Linked DNA regions of Homo sapiens. The protein of the gene in region 1 interacts with the protein of each later gene in a pairwise test. Each region holds a gene or a part of one and is shown in the gene's direction. Other genes may lie near its edges. The genes, in order: FCF1 and BCCIP.

Region 1 (16,349 bases):
GAGGATCACTTGAGCCTGGGAGGCTGAGGCTACAGTGAATTGTGATTATGCCACTACACTCCAGCCCAGGCAACAGAGCAAGACCCTGTCTTTAAAAAAAAAAAAAAGAAGAAGAAGAAGAAAAGAAAGTTGGGCTGGGCGAGATCTTCACCCCGTAGTCCCAGCAGTTTGGGAGGCCGAGGTGGGAGGAGTTCTGGGCTTGAGCTCAGGAGTTCAAGACCAGCCTGGGCAACATGGTGTGACCGCATCTCTACAAAAAAAATTTTTTTTAAATCAAGCTGGGCATGGTGGCTCATGCCTGTAATCCCAACGCTTTGGGAGGCCAAGGTGGGTGGATTGCTTGAGCCCAGGAGTTTGAGACCAGCCTGGCCAACATGGCAAAACCCTATCTCTACCAAAAGAAACCACAAAAATTAGCTGAGCATGGTGGAGCATGTCTATGGTCCCAGCTGCTTGGGAGGCTGAGGTGGGAGGATCACTTAAGCCTGGGAGGTCGAGGCTGCACTGAGCTATGTCCATGTCACTGCCCTCCAGCCTGGGTGACGGAACAAGAACCTGTCTCAAAAGGGGGAAAAAAAGGAAGTTGCTTATAATGCATTTCCTCAAAGGAGCAATTATAAAAATTCATAAATCTGTGTGAGATGGAGGGTTACTTTTATTTATTAATGAAAATGGCCTGTAATCCCAGCACTTTGGGAGGCCGAAGCACGCGGACTACCTGAGGTCTGGAGTTCAAGACCAGCATGGCCAACATGGCAAAACTCTGTCTCTACTAAAAATCCAAAAAAAATTAGCCGGGCGTGGTGGCAGGTCCCTATAATTCCAGCTACTCGGGAGGCTGATGCAGGAAAATCGCTTGAACCCCAGAGGCAGAAATTGCAGTGAGCCAAGATCGTGCCATTGCAAGAGCGAAACTCCGTCTCAAAAAAATAAAAAAAGAAAATGGATCCTGTATTATTTTTTGCTTTATAAAACAGATTTACTGAAATATAATTGACTCCCTTTACAACTATACAATTCATCCCTTTAAAGTGTACAGTTCAGTGACTTCTAGTGGATTCACAGAGTTGTGCATCATCCATCACCATAGTCAATTTTAGAACTTCCATTATCCCAGGAAGAAACCTGGAGACCCTTAGCCATCACCCTGCAACCCTCACCATTCTCTCTATTTCTAGGCAACCACTAATCTACTTTCTGTTTCTATAAATTTCCCTATTCTGGACATTTCATAAAAATAGAATCTTATAATATTTGGTCCTTTTTCATTTAACGTACTGTTTTCAAGGATCATTTATATTACAGTTTGTATCAGTACTTCATTTCTTTTTATTACTAAATAATATTCCACTGTATGGATAGATCACATTTTAATCATTTCTACTTGCTTTTTACATTGAACTATATATTTTGAACATTTTTCCATGGCATGTATATATAAATGGGCCTCATTCTTTTATTTTGAGTCAAGGTCTTGCTATGTCATCCAAGCTGGAATGCAGTGGTCTGAGCCAATAGCTTACAGCAGCCTCAACCTCCAGGTCTCAAGTGATCCTGCAGCCACAGCCTCCCAAGTAGCTGAGACTACTGGAAAGAGCCACCATGCCTGGCTATTTTATTTATTTATGTTTTGTAGAAACAAGGTATCAATCATGTTGCCCAAGTTTTTGGGGTTTGTTTTTTTTTTTTTTTTTGAGACAGGCTGTCACTCTGTCACCCAGGCTGGAGTGCAGTGGTGTAATCTCAGCTCACTACAGCCTCTGCCTCCCGGGTTCAAGCAATTCTCATGCCTCAGCCTCCCAGTAGCCGGGATTGCAGGTGTGTTCCACCACACCCACCTAATTTTTTTTTTTTTTTTTTGAGACAGAGCCTCACTCTGTTACCCGGGTTGGAGTGCAGTGGTGCAATATCGGCTCACTGCAACCTCTGCCTCCAGGCTTCAAGTGATTCTCCTGCCTCAGCCTCCTGAGTATCTGGGACTACAGGCATGTGCCACCACGCCCAGCTAATTTTTTTGTATTTTTAGTAGAGATGAGGTTTCACCATGTTGACCAGACTGGTCTTGAACTCCTGACCTCAGGTGACCTGCCTGCCTTGGCCTCCCAAAGTGCTGAGATTACGGGCATGAGCCACCACACCCAGCCCTAATTTTTATATTTTTAGTAGAGATGGGGTTTTGCCATGTTGGCCAGGAATTCTTTTTTAAAGTTATGTATGGCCGGGCACGGTGGCTCACGCCTATAATCCCATCATTTTGGGAGTTCGAGGCAGGTGGATTGCTTCAGGTCAGGAGTTCGAAACCAGCCTGACCAACATGGTGAAACCTTGTCTTTACTAAAACTACAAAAATTAGCTGGGCGTGGTGGAGGGCGCCTGTAATCCCAGCTACTTGGGAGGCTGAGGCAGGAGAATCGCTTGAACCTGGGAGGCAGAGATTACGCCACTGCACTCCAGCCTGGGCAACAAAGTGAGACTTCAAAAAAAAATAAAGAATGAATAAAGTTACATACTATAATTGCTTCTCAGCCTTTTGGCTAAGATCAGGTGTAAAGTTACATACTATTCTATTGTTTAAATACATAATTTTTTAAACCCAGTATCTTATTAGGTATTTTGGTTATTTCCAGGTTCTACCCAATTAACAAGTCTGTAGTAAATATCCTTATGAATATGTCTCCCTAAGAGTGTATTTCTTTAGGATACATTGTCTGGAAGCTGTATTATGTATCAAGGGATTTGTGTATTTTTAATAGGTATTGCAAATTTGCCCTCAAATAGTTGTACCAATGTATATACCTACAAACTTAGTATGAGAATACTTGTTTCCTCAATATTGGGTATTTTCTTTTTTTTTTTTTTTTTTGAGATGGAGTTTCACTCTTGTCACTCAGGCTAGAGTGCAATGGCACGATCTTGGCTCATTGCAACCTCCATCTGCTGGGTTGAACTGATCCTCCTGCCTCAGCCTCCCAAGTAACTGGGATTACAGGTGCCCAACACCATGCCCAGCTATTTTTTTTATTTTTAGTAGAGACGGGTTTCACCATGTTGGCCAGGCTGGTCTCGAACTCCTGACCTCAGGTGATCCGCCTGCCTCAGCCTCCCAAAGTGCTGGGATTATAGGCGTGAGCCACTACGCCCGGCCAATATTGGATATTTTCATCTGTTTAATCTTTGCCACTCTTCTAGGTGCCACTCTTCCCAGTCTTTGGCCCAATAGACTCCGTTCAAATGTTGGCTTTACCATTTGCTATCTATTTAGTTAACTTCTTTGTGTCTCAGGTTCCTCACCTATAAAATAGGGATGATGATTTTTTTTTAAACTATTATATGGCTTTCTGTTTGATAGTTGTCAAACAGAAGTTTTTAAAATTTTTATGTGATCAGATTTACATTATCTGGCTAATTTCATGGTTTCTTGTGGTTCACATTTAAATTTTATTTCATCTGAGCCAGGCACAGTGGCTCACACCTGTAATCCCAGCACTTTGGGAGCCCAAGACAGGAGGAATGATTGATCCCAGGAGTTCAAGACAGCCTGGGCAACATGGCAAAGCCCCATCTCTACAAAAAAAAAATGTTTTTTTTTAATTAGCTGGGCATAGTGGTGCGTACCTGTGGTCCTCGCTACTCGGGAGGCTGAGGTGGGAGAATCATTAGAACCCAGGAGGATAACTAGAACCCAGGAGTTTGAGGCTGCAGTGAGTTGAGATCGTGCCACTGCGCTCCAGCCTGGGCAACAGAGCAAGACTCTGTCTCAAAAAAATAATAAAAATAAATAATTTTTTTCCCATCAGGAACTTACATTAATATAAAAATAATGACAGAGTTCAGCTTAGTTTTTTTTCCCCAGATATGTTTATAACAGGGAATCTGCAGTTTGGGGTTGGGACAATCTTAGTTTCTTAGGGTTTTCTTCTACTCTAGTTCTTCTTGTATATTTCAGTGTGCTAATTCTGCTGTCATTGCAAAAGTGTCCTGGGTCTTTTTAAAACTCTGAGCAGGGATATAATTCAGAGATAATTTCGTTACAAGTTCTGTTCTTAATGTGAATTTTTTTCCCTGGCAGGTATCCCATGTATAACCGATTGTGTAATGGCTGAAATTGAGAAATTGGGGCAGAAGTATCGAGTGGCTCTAAGGTAGGAAGGAGGTAAACTAGATCTGTTCTAGATTGGTATACTGAAGATTCATCTGTTTGTTGTTTAAAGATTTCTTGGCCAGTTAGTTGTGAAAATCATACAAAACTATTTATCATTTTTGGGGGGGTTGTTTTGGTCTTTCTCTCACACAAAAATCAGTTCCAGTTAGAGTGTCTAAACTTTTAATAGAAAATACAGAGAATATCTTGTCCGGGCTCGGTGGCCTGTAATCCCAGCACTTTGGGAGGCCGAGGCAGGCAGATCACCTGAGGTCAGGAGTCCGAGACCAGCCTGACCAACATGGAGAAACCCTATCTCTTCTAAAAATACAAAATTAGCCGGCTGTGGTGGCAGGTGCCTGTAATCCCAGCTACTTGGGAGGCTTAAGCAGGAGAATCGCTTGAACCTAGGAGGCGGAGGTTGCAGTGAGCCTACATCACGCCATTGCACTCCAGCCTGGGCAACAAGAGCAAAACTCTGTCTCAAAAAAAAAAAAAAAGAGAAAATACAGAGAATATCTTAATGAAATTGAATATTTGTGTATAGCAAAAGATATCATTAACAAAGTAAACAGACATACATAATCAACAAAGGGCTTATTTTCAAAATGCATAAAGAACTTCACATCTGTAAGAAAAACATAATTCTTAAATTCACAGTGAGTTGTCATTTAGTGCCCATTAGATTGGCAAAAATTTTTTAATGAGCTTGACAATGCCAAGAATAGTTAAGACCATGAAGCAATGGGAATTCTCATACTGAACTACTAAGGGTATAAATTGGTCATCACTTTGGAGGGCAACTTGACAATATCTGGTAAAATCCAGGTTGTTCATACTCTTACAACACAGTCTTTTAACCTGGAGATCACATTCTACAGGTAATTAAATTGGTTTAAAGGATCACAATGCCTGGTGGGTTTGGGGGGTTTTTTGTGTTTTGTTTTGTTCTGTTTTTGAAGCAAGGTGTTGCTCTGTCACCCAGGCTGGAGTGCAGTGGCACAATCAGGGCTCACTGCAGCCTCGACCTCCTGGGCTTAAGCAGTCCTCCTGCCTCAGCACCCTCAAGTAGCTGGGACTACAGGCATGCAACACCTCACATGGCCAGTTTTTTAAAATTTCAGTAGAGATGAGGTCTCACCATGTTGCCCAGGCTAGTCTTGAACTCCTGGGCTCAAGTGATCCTCCCACCTTGGCCTCTCAAAGTGCTGGGATTATAGGCATGAGCCACCACACCCAACCCCCGAGTATATTTTTTAGTGTAACAGAAGAAACTATAGGCTGGGCACGGTGGCTCATGCCTGTAATCCCAACACCTTGGGAGGCTGAGGCAAGTGGATTGTTTCAGCCTAGGATTTCCAGTCCAGCCTGGGCATCATGGTGAAACCCTGTCTCCACAAAAAGTAAAAAAATTAACCAGGTGTGGTGGCATACACCTGTAGTCTCAGCTATTCGGGAGGCTGAGGTGGGAAGATTGCTTGAGCCCAGGAGGCAGAGGTAGCAGTGAGCTGAGATGGTGCCACTGCACTTTAGCCTGGGTGATAGAGTGAGACTCTGTCTCAAAAAAAAAAGAAAGAAATTATAAAATATTAGCATGAATATGTAGAAAAAATTGGGTACTGCTTCACAAAACTTTTTTCGCTGTTATATGTGTGTATATGTATATGTGGTATATGTGTGCATACTGTACGCTAGATAAAATCTATCTCGTGCTATGGGTTCTGGTAAAAAAAAAAAGAAAGAAAAAGATTGCTATAGAGAAGTTCAGCTACTATTGGAGTCAAGTATTGGCATCTTCTTATGTACGTAATAGCAAAAAATTGCAGACAGCCAGAAGAAATGGCTTTTCTTAAGCCATAAAGGATGGCCAGGCATGGTGGCTCATGCCTGTAATCCCAGAACTTTGGGAGGCCGAGGCAGGCAGATCATTTGAGGTCAGGAGTGATCCTCAACATGGTGAAACCCTGTCTCTACTAAAATATGAAAATTAGCCAGGCATGGTGGCGGGTGCCCATATTCCCAGCTACTCTGGAGGCTGAGGCAGGAGAATCATTTGAGCCCAGGAGGCGGAGGTTTCAGTGAGCTGAGGTCATGCCACTGTACTCCAGCCTGGGCTACAAAGCAAGACCCTGTCTCCAAAAAAAAAAAAAAAAAAAAAAAAAAAAACTGGGTACAGAAGCTCACGTATAATTCCCAACACTTCGTGAGGCCAAGTGGGGAGGATCGCTGGAGCCCAGGAGTTTGAGACCAGCCTGGCCAACATAATGAGACCCTGGCTCTACAAAACTTTAAAAATTTGCCGGGCGGCCAGCCAGGCGCAGTGGCTCACGCCTGTAATCCCAGCACTTTGGGAGGCCGAGGCGGGTGGATCACGAGGTCAGGAGATCGAGACCATCCTGGCTAACACGGTGAAACCCTGTCTCTACTAAAAATACAAAAAAATTAGCCAAGCGTGGTAGTGGGCGCCTGGTAGTCCCAGCTGCTGGGGAGGCTGAGGCAGGAGAATAGCATGAACCCGGGAGGCGGAGCTTGCAGTGAGCCGAGATCGCGCCACTGCACTCCAGCCTGGGTGACAGAGCGAGACTCCATCTCAAAAAAAAAAAAAAGAAAATTAGCCAGGCATGGTGGCTTGTGCCTCTACGGAGTTCAAGGTTGCAGTGAGCTATGATCACACCACTCCACTCCAGCCCCAAAAACAAAGTGAGACCTTGTCTCTTTAAAAAAGAAAGAAAAGAATAGATAAGCTGTGGAATGCTCATGAATAAAATACTATACAAGAGTGAAGATGAGTGAACTAGAGTTATGCGCCAATGTGGATAAATCTCAAAAACAATATAAACTATAAAAAAAAAACAACAGCAGTCAGGCACTGTGGCTCACTCCTGTAATCCCAGCAGTATTGGGAGCCCGAAGCAGGAGGATTCCTTGAGCCCAGGAGTTTGAGACCAGCCTGGGCAACATAGTGAGACCCAATGTCTATGAAACATTTTAAAATTAGCCAGGCATGGTGGCATGTACTTGTATTCCCAGCTACTTGGGAGGCTGAGGTAGGAGGATTGCTTGAGCCAGGGAGGTTCGAGATCATACCACTGCATTCTAGCCTGGGAGACAGCGAGACCCTGTCTCAAAAAAAAAGAAAAAGAACAATGCTGAGCACTGTTAACGCACATCTGTAGTTCCAGTTACTTGGGAGGCTGAGGCAGAAGGATCACCTGAGCCTAGGAGTTTCAAGCCAGCCTGGACAACAAGACCCCCATCTCTTTTTTTTTTTTTTTATTATACTTTAAGTTTTAGGGTACATGTGCACAATGTGCAGGTTAGTTACATATGTATACATGTGCCATGCTGGTGCGCTGCACCCACTAACTCGTCATCTAGCATTAGGTATATCTCGCAATGCTATCCCTCCCTCCTCCCCCCACCCCACAACAGGCCCCAGAGTGTGATGTTCCCCTTCCTGTGTCCATGTGTTCTCATTGTTCAGTTCCCACCTATGAGTGAGAATATGCGGTGTTTGGTTTTTTGTTCTTGTGATAGTTTACTGAGAATGATGATTTCCAATTTCATCCATGTCCCTACAAAGGACGTGAACTCATCATTTTTTATGGCTGCATAGTATTCCATGGTGTATATGTGCCACATTTTCTTAATCCAGTCTATCATTGTTGGACATTTGGGTTGGTTCCAAGTCTTTACTATTGTGAATAATGCCACAATAAACATACATGTGCATGTGCCTTTATAGCAGCATGATTTATAGTCCTTTGGGTATATATCCAGTAATGGGATGGCTGGGTCAAATGGTATTTCTAGTTCTAGATCCCTGAGGAATCACCACACTGACTTCCACAATGGTTGAACTAGTTTACAGTCCTGCCAACAGTGTAAAAGTGTTCCTATTTCTCCACATCCTCTCCAGCACCTGTTGTTTCCTGACTTTTTAATGATTGCCATTCTAACTGGTGTGAGATGGTATCTCATTGTGGTTTTGATTTGCATTTCTCTGATGGCCAGTGATGGTGAGCATTTTTTCATGTGTTTTTTGGCTGCATAAATGTCTTCTTTTGAGTAGTGTCTGTTCATGTCCTTCGCCCACTTTTTGATGGGGTTGTTTGTTTTTTTCTTGTAAATTTGTTTGAGTTCATTGTAGATTCTGAATATTAGCCCTTTGTCAGATGAGTAGGTTGCGAAAATTTTCTCCCATTTTGTAGGTTGCCTGTTCACTCTGATGGTAGTTTCTTTTGCTGTGCAGAAGCTCTTGAGTTTAATTAGATCCCATTTGTCAATTTTGGCTTTTGTTGCCATTGCTTTTGGTGTTTTAGACATGAAGTCCTTGCCCATGCCTATGTCCTGAATGGTAAAGCCTAGGTTTTCTTTTAGGGTTTTTATGGTTTTAGGTCTAACGTTTAAGTCTTTAATCCATCTTGAATTGATTTTTGTATAAAGTGTAAGAAAGGGATCCAGTTTCAGCTTTCTACATATGGCTAGCCAGTTTTCCCAGCACCATTTATTAAATAGGGAATCCTTTCCCCATTGCTTTTCTCAGGTTTGTCAAAGATCAGATAGTTGTAGATATGCGGCGTTATTTCTGAGGGCTCTGTTCCGTTTCATTGATCTATATTTCTGTTTTGGTACCAGTACCATGCTGTTTTGGTTACTGTAGCCTTGTAGTATAGTTTGAAGTCAGGTAGTGTGATGCCTCCAGCTTTGTTCTTTTGGCTTAGGATTGACTTGGCGATGTGGGCTCTTTTTTGGCTCCATATGAACTTTAAAGTAGTTTTTTCCAATTATGTGAAGAAAGTCATTGGTAGCTTGATGGGGATGGTATTGAATCTATAAATTACCTTGGGCAGTATGGCCATTTTCACGATATTGATTCTTCCTATCCATGAGCATGGAATGTTCTTCCATTTGTTTGTGTCCTCTTTTATTTCATTGAGCAGTGGTTTGTAATTCTCCTTGAAGAGGTCCTTCACATCCCTTGTAAGTTGGATTCCTAGGTATTTTATTCTCTTTGAAGCAATTGTGAATGGGAGTTCACTCATGATTTGGCTCTCTGTTTGTCTGTTGTTGGTGTATAAGAATGCTTGTGATTTTTTACATTGATTTTGTATCCTGAGACTTTGCTGAAGTTGCTTATCAGCTTAAGGAGATTTTGGGCTGAGACAATGGGGTTTTCTAGATATACAATCATGTCGTCTGCAAACGGACAATTTGACTTCCTCTTTTCCTAATTGAATACCCTTTATTTCCTTCTCCTGCCTAATTGCCCTGGCCAGAACTTCCAACACTATGTTGAATAGGAGTGGTGAGAGAGGGCATCCCTGTCTTGTGCCAGTTTTCAAAGGGAATGCTGCCAGTTTTTGCCCATTCAGTATGATATTGGCTATGGGTTTGTCATAGATAGCTCTTATTATTTTGAAATACGTCCCATCAATACCTAATTTATTGAGAGTTTTTAGCATGAAGCGATGTTGACTTTTGCCAAAGGCCTTTTCTGCATCTATTGAGATAATCATGTGGTTTTTGTCTTTGGTTCTGTTTATATGCTGGATTACATTTATTGATTTGCATATATTGAACCAGCCTTGCATCCCAGGGATGAAGCCCACTTGATCATGGTGGATAAGCTTTTTGATGTGCTGCTGGATTTGATTTTCCCGTATTTTATTGAGGATTTTTGCATCAGTGTTCATCAAGGATATTGGTCTAAAATTCTCTTTTTTGGTTGTGTCTCTGCCCGGCTTTGGTATCAGGATGATGCTGGCCTCATAAAATGAGTTAGGGAGTATTCCCTCTTTTTCTGTTGATTGGAATAGTTTCAGAAGGAATGGTACCAGTTCCTCCTTGTACCTGTGGTAGAATTCGGCTGTGAATCCATCTGGTCCTGGACTCTTTTTGGTTGGTAAGCTATTGATTATTGCCACAATTTCAGCTCCTGTTATTGGTCTATTCAGAGATTCAACTTCTTCCTGGTTTAGTCTTGGGAGAGTGTATGTGTCGAGGAATTTATCCATTTCTTCTAGATTTTCTAGTTTATTTGCGTAGAGGTGTTTGTAGTATTCTCTGATGGTAGTTTGTATTTCTGTGGGATCGGTGATGATATCCCCTTTATCATTTTTTATTGCGTCTATTTGATTCTTCTGTCTTTTTTTCTTTATTAGTCTTGGTAGCGGTTTATCAGTTTTGTTGATCGTTTCAAAAAACCAGCTCCTGGATTCATTAATTTTTTGAAGGGTTTTTTGTGTCTCTATTTCCTTCAGTCCTGCTCTGATTTTAGTTATTTCTTGACTTCTGCTAGCTTTTGAATGCGTTTGCTCTTGTTTTTCTAGTTCTTTTAATTGTGATGTTAGGGTGTCAATTTTCGATCTTTCCTGCTTTCTCTTGTGGGCATTTAGTGCTATAAATTTCCCTCTACACACTGCTTTGAATGCGTCCCAGAGATTCTGGTATGTTGTGTCTTTGTTCTCGTTGGTTTCAAAGAACATATTTATTTCTGCCTTCATTTCGTTATGTACCCAGTAGTCATTCAGGAGCAGGTTGTTCAGTTTCCATGTAGTTGTGCGGTTTTGAGTGAGATTCTTAATCCTGAGTTCTAGTTTGATTGCACTGTGGTCTGAGAGACAGTTTGTTATAATTTCTGTTCTTTTATATTTGCTGAGGAGAGCTTTACTTCCAAGTATGTGGTCAATTTTGGAATAGGTGTGGTGTGGTGCTGAAAAAAATGTATATTCTGTTGATTTGGGGTGGAGAGTTCTGTAGATGTCTATGAAAAAGCAAGAACATATGTGGAGTATACCATTTATCTAAAGTCTAAAAACATGCAAACCAATACTGCATTGTTTATAGATATGTGTATATGCTTTTTTTTTTTTTTTTTTTTTTTAAAGACAGATTCTCACTCTGTCGCCCAGGCTGGAGTGCAGTGATGCTATCACAGCTCACTGCAGCCTTGACCTCTCCGGCTCAAGTGATCCTCCTGCTTTGGCCTCCCAAGTAGCTGGGACTACAGGTGCATACCACTATGCATGTCTGATTATTTTTTTTCTTTTGCATGGCTAATTTTAAAAAAAAATTTTTTTGGTAGAGACTGGGCATGGTGGTTCACGTCTGTAATCCTGGCACTTAGGAAGGCTGTGGCGGGCAGATCACCTGAGGCTAGGAGTTCAAGACCAGTCTGACCAATGTGGTGAAACCTCATCTCTGCTAAAAATACAAAAATTAGCTGGGGGTGGTGGCAGGCACCTATAATCCCAGCTACTAGGGATGCTGAGGCAGGAGAATTGCTTGAGGCTGGGAGGCAGAGGCTGCAATGAGCCAAGATCATGCCACTGCATCCAGCCTAGGCAACAGAGCAAGACTCCATCTCAAAAAGGCTGGGTGCAGTGGCTAACGCCTGTAATCCTAGCACTTTGGGAGGCTGAGGTAGGCAGATCATCTGAGGTCGGGAGTTCTAGACCAGCCTGGCTAACATGGTGAAACCCCGTCTCTCCTAAAAATACAAAATTAGCTGGGCATGGTGGCGCATGCCTGTAATCCCAGCTACTCAGGAGGCTGAAGCAGGAGAATCGCTTGAACCCGGGAGCAGAGGTTGCAGTGAGCTGGGATTGTGCCAATGCACTCCAGTCTGGGTGACAGAATGAGACCCCATCTCCAAAAAAAAAAAAAATTTAGTAGAGATAGGGTCTCACTATGTTGCCCAGCTGGTCTCAAACTCCTGGCCTCAAGTGATCTTCCTGCTTTGGCCTCCTAAAGTGCTGGGATTGTAGTCATGATCCTCCACACCCAGCCTGGTAATTTTTAAAACAATAAAAATAAAGAATGAGAGGGGAAAAAATAGAGGCACCAAGTGGAAACACTAAGTTTGGCTGTCAAGAGATGCAGAAATGGGGTGTTAGCTGGAGGGGGGTATAGGTAAAAAGATTTTTTTGTCTTAAGGCAGAGAATATATGACAGCATGTTAGTATGTTTCTAGGAAAGAGCTAGTAGAGAGGAGACAAGTGATTTCAGGAGTAAAGAGATAACTGAAAGAGCATAGTCCTAGACTGTTGCCCACCTAGTTTGTCAGCAACCAGTCCATCCTCCCTCTAGTGTATCCTCCCCAGCACAGCCTGCTTAGTTTTTCCAAGACAGAGCTTTGTTCTTATCACTTTGTCCCCCAGAAATCTTTAATGACTCCTCATTACCTGTGTCATCACACTCGTCAGCCTGGCATTGGAGACTCTTTCTAGCCCCATTTCATTCTTCTCTCCACAAACACTCTGCCCCCAGCCAGAAAGATGTGTTTACTCTTCCCCAAATACCAAGAAACCATTTTACAGTTGGCTGGTGTCCTATTTGGTACCCTCACATTGCTTGGCACATTCTTTAATCTTATTTCACCCCATGTCATTTTTTTCTAAATATTCCCAACCCACATTGACCTAGCGCTGAACTACTGCAATATGGAGGAGTATTTGTGTTGCACTTGGTACATATGTGCTGTCTTGTATTTTTCTTCATTTCAGTGACTCATCATCACTGTTAATAGAAAGAGCATGGCTCTCAGAATCACACAGAGTTGGGGTTTTTCTTTTTCAAATATGTATGAAAATAATACATGTTTGAGTGTTTTATGGCAAACAATACAAGCATATACATATAGTAAAAGGTAAAAGTCTGCCTCTACATTCATACTTTGTCCATTCTCATACCCCAAGAGTGACAACTGACAAAGGTTAATATATTTTTTCAGACCTTTTTCTGTGCAAATGCAAATCTAAATAAAGAGTATTGGAAAGAAGGATTTGTATTTTATTAATTAAATCATATTATATATATATATATGCATATGCCCTGCTTTGTTTATTCAACAGTTTAGTGTAGGTCCTTCCACATTGGTACGTACAGCTCTACCTCACTTTTTATTAATAGGATAAGGGCACCAAAATGGGTTTAACTTTTACCTTTCTAAAGGATATTTTTATTTTCTTCACTTACTATAAACTGTGTTGAGTGATCATCCTTCTGCCTATATTCTTGTTCATTGTGTTTAAGACAACTTCTTAAAAGTGAAATGGTTAGGTTAAAATGGGTTTTGTTTTTGAATCCTGGCTTTTCCCAGCTGTATAGCTTTGAATGAAGTAATTTAATCTCTCTAAGCCTACTTCCTCATCTGTAGAATAGATATATAATAACTCAAAGTTTTGTAATGATTAAATGACCCAAAGCACACTAGCTGTCAGCCTTCATTCCCTGCCCCGTGAATTGTCTTTCCAGTTAGAGGATAAAGTTCAGGAGGAGAACAGTGCCTTAAAATCTCTGCATAGATCATGTTACTTTTATTGCATTAATTAAGACTCAGAAAGTTATCCAGCTGATTGAATGTTTTCTTTAATCCACCTACAGGATTGCCAAGGATCCAAGATTTGAACGATTACCATGTACACACAAAGGAACCTATGCAGATGACTGCTTAGTACAGAGAGTAACTCAGGTATTATCAGTTCATAACTGTTTACTTTGTGCTTAAAAAAAAAAAATGTAAACTATTATCTCCTGAATGTTCATGGTCAGTAAAACATCTAGGAATATACATTATGGTTAAATTAAAAAAAAATTGCATAGCATTCCTTCATAAGAAGCATAGGTGTCTTCATTTACTTGAGAAAGTGGATTGAAAATGTACACTCTAACCATAATGGAAAGAGCACAGGCTTGGGGAGGAGACATGGGTTTCACGTCTCAGCACCTGCATTTACTGGCTGTGTGATTTGGGACATTTAACTGATTCTTTATCTCACAAATCTCTGTAAAATGATTTTAAGTGAGTTAATGTAGAACCCATTTATTTTTGATGTAGGAATTTTGTTCCTCTTCACGATGCCTAATCCAAAAGTGCTTCTTAGTTAAATCTGAGAGTCTCCCAAGATGCTGTTTCACACATACCCTAGAATAAGTAGGTTTTTAATTCCTTCATTAAGCACCACAAGGACTTCTGCTACTGAGTGCTTTTATAAGGGCCTCTCTGCTGATGATAATCTTCATCTGCTCTGCTGACCACAGAGCCATCCTTTTAGCCACTTCACCCCATGGGGCGGGTGGGTGGGGCCAGTATTTCCCACAGCACAGCTGACACCACTCTGCCACTTTTTATAAAACTCAGTAGGAGAGTCAGACGTGACAGATGTGAAGCTTCCTATAAAATAGCTTTCACCTGACAGCTAAATATTACTGCTTTTATAACTGCTAGGCTCTAGTTTCAGGCCCTGAATATCCTACTTAGGCTTCCTGTTTCGGGGATAGCTTACCTCTAACATCAGTAGGCCCAGAGCACACCCAAGCCCCAAGATCTAGGGAAAGGAGGGAGCTATGGCCTCCAAATTAAGGCACTTTTTATCTCCATGGAGTTCCTCGGAGCATTTTCCCAAAACTAAAGAATTGTCTGCCCCAAGTGTGAAAGTCCCTTTCATTTATGAGCAGAAAACAGTTTGCAGCTTGTGAAAAGTTTTCTACCTTCTCCTCCTCAAGATTCTAAATGCTGCATTCAGCCCAGGCAACTTGTTTATTTTATATAACAAGATTAGGAGCTCCTAGATCATAGTAGGTACTCAACAAATTGTTATAGCCTGCCCTTCGCTACTTACTGTGAAAATGAACGATTCTCAGACTGGTCAGTCGTTGTGCCATTATCCAGTATTCACTAAGCGTGCTCAGTGACCTCAGTGTGAACATCACTCCATGTCTCTTACAGCATAAGTGTTACATTGTGGCCACAGTTGACCGGGACCTGAAAAGAAGAATCCGTAAGATTCCTGGAGTTCCTATCATGTACATTTCTAACCATAGGTGAGAAATTTCCCTTGGAGAAGGGAATAGAAATATATAATTGATATCAATTGAAAATGAGGATAAGTGATAAGGTTATAAAGGATTTGAAAGAAATTATTGTATCAAATGTTTACATAGTTATATTTGAAGAAATGAGACAAAGCAAGAGCAAGAGCAAAAGAGAGAGATAGGATTTAAGGAATGAGGCAAACATTTAAATTGTTAGAGTAAGATTACTGGAAGAAATAGACGTATTGTTTTAAATAAAAGCAGTAATTTAAATCAAGCTAATCTTTTTGGCCAGAAATACCTGTTTTGAAAGATTTTTTTTTATTAACACTTCATCTGAGAAATGGAAAGCTTATTTAAAAAAAAAAAAAGCTGTTATCCTTCTTGGCTATTTTTTGTCAGTACTCAGACTTATTTTCCAGCTTTTCAGCTTGAGGAGAGCACAATGTGGTGGGAAGTCTGTGGACTAAGAAGTTGGACTTACTGATCTCAGCTCCTCAGTTCCCCTCTTGCTGACTTTGTGACTTTGAAAAAACAATCATATTGTATTATAGTCAGCATTTTGCTGTAAATCATTCATTATGATGTTCCCCTAAATTGTTTCCACTGACAAAAAGGATTCACAGTGGGGGTGAGAGTATTGCAGTCTATAAAGGATGGGTTTTTAGATGGGTTCTCTTCCCATCTTTCTTACCGGTGTTGATTTTTTGTCCTGATCAGATACAACATTGAACGGATGCCAGATGATTATGGAGCCCCTCGATTCTAATTCTTACAAGACACAGTTCCTCTGCCTTTCTTCGACCAACTTTCTCTTGTTGCCAGTTCATTACACAAAATGTAGCGGGATTTTTAAGGAATCAGAGAGACTGATGGAGTTCAGGGAGATATTTATTATTTAGGTGCACCAGCCCAGTCAGATTAACATCCAAAGGACTGAACCCTGAACAGAGTTAAGTTACCTTTTAAGCATTTTGTGGGGCCGCGGGGGTTGGGGGGAATCTGTGCAGGGGGAAGCATATTACAGAAGCAAGAAAGACAGTTATTCAATTAACTGAGACATGCATTACATCATTTCTTACTTTTCAAGGAAAATCATGTTTTACGACTTGAGTTTATCTGTCTAGTTACCTTGCAGCTGCACAGCTAGAGAAACAGGGTATTTACAATGCCTGGGAAAGGAGGAGAGATAAGGCTCACTAGCCACAGAAAAACAGGCAGTTAATTTTTAAAGGACTCCAGCTCTTTCTCTTTCTCACGGGGAATTGGATTTTCTTACATGCAACTGAATTTCTGCTTACACATTTTTAAATTTCTTTTAATTGCTTTTCCAATGCAATAGCATGAATTATTATTCTGTTGACCTATTTGCCTTACTATGAGCTGAGGG
Region 2 (10,913 bases), on another chromosome or scaffold:
CCAAGTCGTGGGTAAATCTTTGGTTTCATAGTCTCATAGAACTGTGTTCCTTTCTTCAGACTAGGTCCTACCGTAGTGCCTGGCAATATAGGTACTTATTATTTGTTTAGTAAACAATTAGGACTGAATGATCCTTCAGCCTACTGAATGTTTAAATAGATACCTCAGCCTTAACTTGTCCAAAGCAGAATTTGTATAATAATTCATGCCCCTCTCTTAATCGTCACCATTTCTATAAATGGCCCCTAAAGTCACCAGCTGCTCTAACCCAAAACCTGGGGCTTAACTTTAATTCCTCCCTTTCCTCATCCTATATCCAGCCCATCAGTAAATCCTGTTATCCAGACATTTCTCAGCACTAATTCTGAGACCATCGTAGTCCACACCTCTATCATCTCTTGCCTGGACTACTATTTAATGTAACAGCTTTTAACCGGCGTTCTTTTCTCCATTTTTGTTCCCCTACAATCAGTCTATACTCCACTTACAGTCAGAGAGATCTTATAGGTCTGATCTCAGGCCTCTGCTTAGATTGCTGCATTGGCTTTCTAGTTCATTTACAAGAAAATCAAGAGTCTTCACAATTGAGGGACGGAAAGGCAGCCTAGATGGCTGGATCAGAATAAGGAAGAGAGAGTGATAGGAAATAAAATCAGAGAGGTAATCATGAGTCATGATGAGCATGGAGGGGAGCATGGAGAGAAGCATGGATGCAGGATTAGAGGTGACACCATGGTGTGGGTATGTGATCAATCTTCCTTCCCTTACAAATTTTACTTTGGCTCTATGCCTTGAATGCCATCTCACCATTTTTCACTTAGAACTTTGACTGGCTCTTTTATTACTTTTGGGTTATAGAAATCAATGCTGCTTGTGTTAACATGGGAAATCTATCACACCACCACAGTCTTAATTCTAAATCACCTGGGAATGAGGGACAGGGCTCTTTTCTACAAACGTGACTGTTCCTGCTGAAGCCATGTGGAGATGAGCCCATACCCAGGAAAAGGGTGCTGGACAGATAATCCATTTGCCGCCCATTTCCCTGGTGGTGCCATAATAGTCTGGGACAGAGGTCCGAGATGTCTGTCTAGACAAAGAAAAAAACACTAGATGAGCATTATTTACAGAATGTATTTATATCTAAGGAATAAGTTTAAGTCCTGAATAATGACAGTTTGTTATTTGGTTTAGTTTGATCCTGTTTGGAACACTCCCACCCGACCCCTTGTGTTTTGCTGCTCACATAATCTGGCTAAGTTAGCATTTGAAGTCTGCAAAGCTGGACTTAAAGAGTTCAAATTGGAGCTGGAATTGCTCTAAGCAATTCCAGGGCCTTGCAATTTTACAATTAAGGAAGACTTAAATATATACATAGTCAGGGTGGCAAGGTAAAAGGAGGTCTGATTTCCTCTGCGATGTTCTTCAGCTAAGACCTAAATTCTGAAACCGTTAAAACCTGAAGTGCCTTTAAATATATTATTTCATCAGAGCCCCAGGTTCATTGTGTCACTTATCAAGGTCTGATTTAGGGTCCTCAAGGACTAATCTTGTTAGTGTTTAAAAGCAACTAGGTTTTGTTTTTGGCATTTTAGTTCCATCTTCTAGATTCTGTTGTCTTGCAGATAGAGATCAGGGAGCCCAGCTACACATTCATTCTTCTAGTCCCTTGTACTCATTGTATTTCCTTCTGCCTTAGGGCCTTAGTTTGTGCTGTTCCCTGTACCAGGAACTCTCTTTGCTGTTTCTCGGTTTCTTGCTCAAATGTCACTTCAAGGAAGGCTTTCCTGACTGACTTCTTATTTTTTAAGTTGTTACAACATTGTGTACCTTTGTTTTATAGCACTTACATTTATTTCTATGAATATTTCCTTAATGCCTATATTCCTTCCTAAATCGTAAGCTGCACGAGAGCAGGATCATTTGTGTCTGCCTTACTAACCTTTTCATCTTGAGTGCCTGGCACAGTGCTTGGTACCTGGATTGATACTTAATAAATATTTGCTAAGCAAATGTAGTGTAACCTCAAATCCATGGGCTAAGTCAAGCTCTAGGCAATTCCAGGGACTTTTGAAGTGATTTTGATTTTTGCCCACCCTTGTAATCAGGAAAATAATTTATCCTTTGTGGCTGCCGTGTCTGGTTTATTTGAACTGGACTTTCTCAACATTTAAACTAGGTTACTCTGAGTGTTTTGTTTTCTCAGGCTTTTGTGTCACCTGAAGAAATAGTGTGAAGGTGCTTTGTATTCTTCACAGATGGCAATCTTGGCAATGTTTGCCTGTTTTAAAGTCTAGATGTTTGTAGTTTTTCTGGTAACAACTATTTTGTGTGTTATTTACAGGAAGTGAATATTGAATTTGAAGCTTATTCCCTATCAGATAATGATTATGACGGAATTAAGAAATTACTGCAGCAGGTATTGTCTTTTATTTATTATGCATAAATTTCCTCTTCTAAGAAAAATCAGGGGCCGGGTGCAGTGGTTCATGCCTATAATCTCAGCATTTTGGAAGGCCGAGGTGAGAGGATTGCTTGAGCCCAGGAGTTTGAGACCAGCCTGGGCAACATAATGAGAACCTGTCTCTACAAAAAAATTAAAAATTAGCCAACTGTGGTAGCACACACCGTTAGTCCTAACTCCTCAGGAGGCTGAGGCTGGAGGATTACTTGAGTCTAAGAGCTCAAGGCTGCAGCTATGAATGTGCCATTGAGCTCCAGTCTGGGCAACAGAGTGAGCCTCTGTCTCTAAAAAAAAAGAAAATTCAGGTCATTCAATACAGGCTCTCCCAAGTTCATCTTTTTAGAATTTCCATTTCTATCCTCTCCACCTTGCCTGGAAGGAAGAATTATTTCCTTTCATCTGCTAATTAGAGTTATTTTGTTTTTTTTTTTAATTCACAATTCTTATGTAACAGTCATATAACTGTGCTGTTTGGTGCTATAAAATTGATGCTTGCTGCTTCTCCTTATTCTTTTACTCATATAATATGACTTTGGTTCTTTAGCCTTTATAGCTCTACCGTCTTTTTCACCAAATTCTTTGGCCTTAAGTTTATCCTCTCTCGTTTCTCCCTTTTTTCTCCCCCTCCCCCATTACTTCTATATTACTACTGACTTCTTCTTTTCTGAAATTTCCTAATCTTTAGCTTCTTTGACTCTCCTGGGCTTTTCTTTCCCTCTTGGGGTTGCTTTTCTAGATCATCATCTTAAGTCACAGAAATTTCATTGTTTGTATTTGAATATAGGATTTGAAGTTATTAGAAATCATGCTTTGATCTTAATTTAAAATAATTTTTTCCTCCTTTTAGCTTTTTCTAAAGGCTCCTGTGAACACTGCAGAACTAACAGATCTCTTAATTCAACAGAACCATATTGGGAGTGTGATTAAGGTAAGTAGGATAATTGTGTTTATTCTGATTAAATGAGTTCTTTATTCTGTTCATGCTGGGCCTCACCATGCTTGTAATCCCAGCACTTTGGGAAGCAAAGGTGGGAGGATTGCTTGAGGCCAGGAGTTCAAGACCATCCTGGGCAATATAGCAATACTCTGTCTCTACAAAAAATAACAAAAAATTAGCCGGGCATAGTAGCACATGCCTGTAGTCTTTTTACCCAGGTGGCTGAGGTAGGAGGATCTCTTGAGCCAAGAAGTTGAAGGCCATGGTGAGCTTTGTGCCGCTGCACTCTAGCCGGGCAACACAGCAAGACCCTATATCTGAAAAAAAAAAAAAAAAAAAAAAAAAGTTCTTTATTCTGTTTAGCTCAAATTGGAAGCAGTATTACTGGAGGAATGGAGACTGATCAGAAGTCATTGCAGAAATCCAAGCTTATTAAATGCAGTAGTCCAGGTGGGGGCAATGGAGAGGGAGAGAAGTGGGCTCATTTAGAAAATATTTGGGAGATGAAATATGATGAGGTTTAGTCCCTGATTGGGTCTGAAAGTGAGAGGAAAAGGAGTCAAGGATGACTTCCAGGTTTCTAGCTTGAGCAAACAGGATAACAAACATGGAGGAAGGTCAAATTAGGAGGGGGAATGTGAATTTGGATTTGTACATTTTGAGTTTGAGTTACCTGTGAGATACCGGGTAGCAGGTGGAGCCCTGGAGACTTGGGAGTTGGTCGTAAATGTTACTGAGGTCGTAGAAGTGATTGAGATTGCGCAGGGAGGGAAGGGACAGACACCTTAGTAATACCAAGAATACTTCGATGAGTAATATAAGTGGCAGAGCCAGCAAAGGAGATTAAAAGGGATGACAGGAGAAGTAGAAGAAACAATAGTGCAGTGATGTCATACACAGCAAGAAAGATAACATTTGAAGGAGGAGGGGATGGTCATCTTTATCAGATAGATGTTGTAGAGAGCTCAACAAAATAAGGACTGGTTTAGACCCTGGGTCTGCTGCTTATCATCTGGTGGTTCTTTGGGTTATCTGTTGTTTGTATAACAAACCACCCCATAGCTTAGTGTCGTAAAATAGCAGTAGTCATTTATTTGGCTAATGGATCTACAGTTTGGACAGAGCTCAGTGGGCACAACTCATCTGTGCTCCTGCTCCATCATGTTAGCTGGGGTGGCTTGACTAGGGGCTGGAGGATTCCCTTTCAAGATGGCTCACTCACATGACTGGCAAGTTAGCCCTAGCTGTCTGTCGGGAGCTTAGCTGGGACTCTGGACCAGGGGCCTTAGTTCTTCTCCATGTGGGCCTCGTCACACATTGGTTTGCTTCCAAGAGCAAGCTGCCCAAAAGAAGCAGGCAGAAGTGATATAGTGCCATTTCCACCATTTGCTTAGTCTTTACAGATAGAAATTTCTATCTAGGGGGAGGGCACATTGATCCCACCACTCCATGAGAAAAGTACCTAGGTCACTTTGTCAGAAGAGCATGTCCAAGGAGAGATCCATTGGGGCCATCTGTGAAAGATACAGTCTGCCACAGTACCTTAATCTGTTTCCATTTCTGTCTCTGAAAATGAGGATGGTACTAGCACCGATCTTGTAGAGTGCATGGGTAAACAAAATGAATTGCTGACTGCTTAAAACAGTGTCTGGCAGCTGACATGTGCTACATATGTGTAGCTGTCACTGTTGATGTCTTTTTCCTGTTCCTAGCACCTGTTCCCTAGCCTGTTGTGAAAAACACAACAAACAAAAGCTCCATTCAGTCTAATGTTCCACTCTTAAGTACATCACCTTCAGAGCCAAAATTCTTGAAAAGTAATCTTAAGTCATGGTTTCTACTTCCTGTCCTCCTATTCATTCTTCAGACACTCTTATCTGACTTTTACACCACTAAAATTCGGACACTGAGTGATAGGGTCACCAACATACTTGTTACTAAATACAGTGTACACTTTTCAAGGCTTCTGACAATATTAGTAACTTTATGGCACTCAATGTAAAGAAAATGAGAAATTAAACCTATGGGGCATTCCTTTTATTAGGGCAATGGGAAAAAGCAGACCACCTGCCCTTTCATCAAATAAATGTGATCTCTAGCTGATTCGTGTCTTAGAAGACCTAATGGATATGGAGGAGAAGCAGTTATTTTTATCCTTGAAAGAGGTTATTATCTAATGGCAGGATTCACTCTTTAAATGGATAATCACATCAATAGCTCTGCAGTTGTAACTGTGGCTTCTTGGGATTCTCCAGAGACACTTGAGGTGTCCTGAGGATAGAGACTTCTTGTTCTTAGTAAAGGGACTACCCATAGTGTTCGGTGGAGCCAGTCCCTAGGATCATAGAACAAAGGGCAGGGGGTTCTCTTTTTTCCCCTTCTCTCTTGCTAATGTGATAGGTGTAAGTGGCCCTCAAGCATTGCCTAGCTTCACTAATGGTCAAGACTGACAAGTGTTCTGGAAACTCATGAGTTTTAGATGAAACAATGCTGTGGGCCAGCAGAGAAGCAAGGCTTGGCTCCAGCCTAATTGTGTAGAAAACAAATGAAAATGCTTTATTTCATGAGGTTTATCTCTTCTGGATTTGTATTATATTGAGAATCTGATAAAAGAAAATGACTTAATCTGGTACAAAGAAATTTCAATCTGTTCAGAATCTGAAAAGAGGAACAGAGTCGAGGTAAAGCGAAATGAACAAGGTCACACAGTATTTAAGATACAATGCTTTCCAAGATGATGGTGGTAAAACTGTGACAGTATTTAAAATACAATGCTTTCTAAGATGGCGGTGGTAAAACAAAGTTTTGCTTTTGAAAAGTGAAAAGATAAATGAGGCCTACATCCCAAGACTTGGTTTTATACTCTTGGTATTATACTAAATATAACATTTAAATATTTTTTCTTTTAAAATAGCAAACGGATGTTTCAGAAGACAGCAATGATGATATGGATGAAGATGAGGTTTTTGGTTTCATAAGCCTTTTAAATTTAACTGAAAGAAAGGTTGGTTTCACTGGATGGCATCTGAATGGTTATTTCTTAGGCCAAAACCACTTTTATTTAATGCATGGTGAAAATGTCTTTTATGTTAAACAGTGATATTAACTATAGGGATAAGTGCTCTTGTGAAATCTTATTGTAATCCTTTTTCAATATGAAGGTGGTGGTGTTGGGTCTGTACCCAGTTAAAGTTGTTTACTCCCTGTGGTTTAGGGAATCATCTGGCTTTGCAGTCCTGATGTTGGTACTGATGCAGGAGCTGTTTGTGCTGTCTCTCTGCAGCTGTTATCTTTGCTACTTGTGTAGTGGGGATATTCTCAGGCTTTGCTGCCTCAATGTTGAGGGCATTTACTGACATTTTATTTTGTTTCGATTCATCTCTTTTTATTGATTCTCTGATGAGTTGTAATAAAAAGTAAACCAGCTGCTTACCCACCTCAGAATAAGATGCAGGCTACACTTAGTCTTTAATTTTGAAATAAACTGTCCAGTTACTTCCATCTATCTTTATGAGATGGACTAGAGTTGCCATTCCAGTGTGTCTGAATGTTAATTATGACTCTCTTACCACTCATCATGGGATGGTAAATAACCAGTGTATTTACTTTTGAGAAATGCTTAAGCAGTCAACACTGAAGACATACAAGACGTTAAGGCTATGGCAGGAAACTGCCCTTAGCTGTAAGATGAAAAGTGATAGCTTTTACTCTCAGGTTTTGTCCTCTATGTGATGGCTTGTAATAGGAAACAAGCTTTCTCTTTGCTTTCTAGGGTACCCAGTGTGTTGAACAAATTCAAGAGTTGGTTCTACGCTTCTGTGAGAAGAACTGTGAAAAGAGCATGGTTGAACAGCTGGACAAGTTTTTAAATGACACCACCAAGCCTGTGGGCCTTCTCCTAAGTGAAAGATTCATTAATGTCCCTCCACAGATCGCTCTGCCCATGTACCAGCAGCTTCAGTAAGAGATTCTGGGAAAATATCTTTGAACAGTAATTTTTTTTTCAAATAGATTCCTAAATGTCATTTAAGTAGAATATGTAGATATAGAAAGAGTTCTGTCCTTGGTTTAAGTGGGTTTAGTGTGAGGGGAGTGGAAGAAACATCCTGTGAAGTACATACATTATTAACAACTGGCTTTTTGAAGAGTTTGTGACAATAATCATGAAATTTTAACTTAAGATTTAAGTGATATATAAGTAGATAATTTCATATAGACTTTGCATCCCCATTTGATTGAAGTTTTTCACCTTCACAGATAGCTTTCTGCAACATGAATAAAATAATGAACAATTACAACAATAACAAAACTGGTAAAGTTCCCAAATTCTATTGGTATGTTTCATAACAAATGAAACCATAGTCCTGATACTGTGGCTAGCTTTTCAGGGTTTTTGTTATTCTATTTTTTAATCCAGAAGTTTTAAGTTTACAAAAATATTTCAAATGTAGCTGTGAAATCTAGCAAACTGAGTGTACTAAGAATTGTATTGTCTGTGCTTTGCAACAGAGGACAAAATATAGGCAGATTCTCTTATTTATTTCTATCTAATTTAAATTTTTTTTTTTTTTTGGTAGAGACAGGGTCTTGCTACATTGCCCAGGCTGGTCTTGAACTCCTAGGCTAAAGTGATCTTCCTGCCTCGGCCTCCCAGTGTTGGGATTACAGGTGTCAGTCACAGCACTTGACCTAGACAGGTTCTTTATAGAATATTCTTTCTCAGAGGTCATAGCCCTTGCGTTGTGGTTTTCCTTTAAATAGCTGTAGGAATGCAACTCTACTCTGGAAACCTTTACGTTTGCTGTTTTTTCCTAGGGATTCGATGCTTCTTATCTCCTGCTCCCTGCTCTCTCAGCTGTAGCTCAGATTGTGCTTCTGGTGCCTTAAGTGGTTTTTGTTTTTTTTTGGTTTTCTTTTTTTCTGATCAGCTGGAGCTCACATTTATTTGGTTTTATAGGAGGGTGATTTGCTTTCTCCTAGTCCTGTTAAAGCTGAAGTGAGCCAAGCGCAGTGGTGCACGCCTGTAGTCGCAGCTACTCAGGAGGCTGAGGCAGGGGGAATGCTTGAGGCCAGGAGTTCCAGGCTGCAATATACTATGATTGTGCCTGTGAATAGCCACTGCACGCCAGCCTGGGCAAAATTACAAGACCCTATCTTTTTTTTTTTCTTTTTTTTTTTTTGAAAAGGCCAGGTGTGGTGGCTGACACTTGTAATTCCAACACTTTGGGAGGCCGAAGCTGGCAGATCACTTGAGGCTAGGAGTTTGAGACCAGCCTGGCCAACATGGCGAAACCCCAATTCTACTAAAAATACACCCACAAAAAATTAGCCGGGTATGGTGGTGCAGACCTGTAATCCCAGCTACTCAGGAGGCTTAGGCACGAAAATCGTGTGAACCTGGCAGGCAGAGGTTGCAGTGAGCCGAGATTGTGCCATTGTACTCTACAGCCTGGGCAACAGAGTGAGATTTTGTCTCCAAACGAAAAAAAGAAAAAAAAAAAAAAGGAAAGCTGAAGAGGACGGTTGTTCTGAGTTTCTTCTTTTGTTCAAGGGCATCCAGATGCACAAGGCTATGTTTAATTTTCAGAAAGAAGAAACATTAAGGCTTTGTTGCGATTCCATTGCTAGAATTTAGGTTGTGTGTTTATGCAGTTTCTGCAGTATGTCAGAAATTAGTTCCAGACTCTAGCAATTAGAGACTGTGGTAGTAGTCACAGGCTGTAGTGACATTGGTTGTGGCTGTATACCTTTGTGTGTTTCAGTTAAATGTTCATTGCTTTAAAAAATTCAAAAATTCAGATTCGTATATATTTTTAACTTATGCACAGGCAGAGCAGTGATACATTGAGTGAATTTGAGACTCATCTGATCTGTTAGTTGCTATATATCCACAAATCAGCATAATCTGAGAGATATATCATAGTATTATAAAAAGTAATACATAATCTAAAATGCAACTGATTATGTAAATAAAAATCATTCCTGTAGACTAAGTGTTCAGATTGAATGCCTGCGTCACAGCAGAACCCACTGAAGATGCCTCACCGGGTTTTCTGTGCTCTGGTTTGTTGATGGATTTCACTTGACCCAGCAGGTAAACAAATGTTGTGTGTGTGCCTTGCAGGAAAGAACTGGCGGGGGCACACAGAACCAATAAGCCATGTGGGAAGTGCTACTTTTACCTTCTGATTAGTAAGACATTTGTGGAAGCAGGAAAAAACAATTCCAAAAAGAAACCTAGCAACAAAAAGAAAGCTGCGTTAATGTTTGCAAATGCAGAGGAAGAATTTTTCTATGAGGTAAGACTATCCTGCTTATTTGTTTAGATGTAAATAAGGATTTTCTTGAAAATGATTTATCAAGATTTATTGTTCTCCCACTTTAGGTCCAAGTCTTTCAAGTGTGGCTACTCTGTTTTTCTGTTTCCCCACAGGACCTAGCAGCTAACATAGTGCCAGGTGCATAGTAGGTACTCAGGAGGCTAGGCACCAGCCTCCTTGCCTGCACTGTGGTTATGAGCATGAGGAGGAGGAGGAGAAAAGTGATTAACCTGTTAAGAATGATTAGGCATTTATAATATGCTTCCTGTGAAATCTTTCATTCTAAAACCATGCGGAGAGGTAGACATTAGCCTGGGGTTTACAGATGTGGACTTTAAGGCATAGGGAAATGAGGGAAATTACCTGCGATCACACAGCTGGTCAGTGTGGAAGCTGGGGCACCCCTGCTGCTCTGTGTCCTTAGTCGTGGATGTCATCCTGCTGGTGGGATATCTCCAGCATTTTTTTCCTATAAAGGTAGCTTGTACTGTGATGGACAGCCATATACCAGAGAATATTCTTACCCTCTCTTCCTCTGAAAAATCTTGAAGTGGGCCAGGTGCGGTGGTGCACACCTGTAATCCCAGCACCTTGGGAAGCTGAGGCGGGCAGATCACCTGAGGCCAGAAATTCAAGACCAGCCTGGCCAACAGGGAGAAACCCCATCTCTACTAAAAATACAAAAAAAAAAAAATTAGCCGGGCATGGTGGCAGATGCCTGTAATCCCAGCTACTCGGAAGGCTAAGGCAGGAAAATTGCTTGAACCTGGGAGGCAGAGGCTGCAGTGAGCCGAGATCGCGCCACTGCACTCCAGCCTGAGCAACAAGGAAGAAACTCCGTCTCAAAAACAAACAAACAAACAAAAAACACAAAAACATCTTGAGCCAGGCACGGTGGCTCACGCCTGTAATCCCAGCACTTTGGGAGGTCAAGGCGGGTGGATCACGAGGTCAGGAGATCGAGACCATCCTGGCTAACATGGTGAAACCCCGTCTCTACTAAAAAATACAAAAAATTAGCCGGGCGTGGTGGCACGTGCCTGTAGTCCCAGCTACTCGGGAGGCTGAGGCAGGAGAATGGCATAAACCCGGGAGGCGGAGCTTGCAGTGAGCCGAGATTGCGCCACTGCACTCCAGCCTGGGCGACAGAGCGAGACTCTGTCTCAGAAAAAAAAAAATCTTGAAGTGTATC

Evidence for each region.
Region 2: the proteins of FCF1 (region 1) and BCCIP interact in binary tests that used the Homo sapiens proteins (3 or more experiments, as listed by UniProt).

Annotation. Positions count from the first base shown.
Region 1 is NC_000014.9:74,719,203-74,735,551, forward strand, and holds part of FCF1 (rRNA-processing protein FCF1 homolog), read left to right. Parts: intron 1-4,069; coding exon 4,070-4,142; intron 4,143-13,528; coding exon 13,529-13,616; intron 13,617-14,873; coding exon 14,874-14,968; intron 14,969-15,679; coding exon 15,680-15,728; 3' UTR 15,729-16,349. UniProt on the Homo sapiens protein: Part of the small subunit (SSU) processome, first precursor of the small eukaryotic ribosomal subunit.
Region 2 is NC_000010.11:125,824,247-125,835,159, forward strand, and holds part of BCCIP (BRCA2 and CDKN1A-interacting protein), read left to right. Parts: intron 1-2,344; coding exon 2,345-2,419; intron 2,420-3,311; coding exon 3,312-3,392; intron 3,393-6,315; coding exon 6,316-6,405; intron 6,406-7,173; coding exon 7,174-7,361; intron 7,362-9,525; coding exon 9,526-9,700; intron 9,701-10,913. UniProt on the Homo sapiens protein: During interphase, required for microtubule organizing and anchoring activities. During mitosis, required for the organization and stabilization of the spindle pole.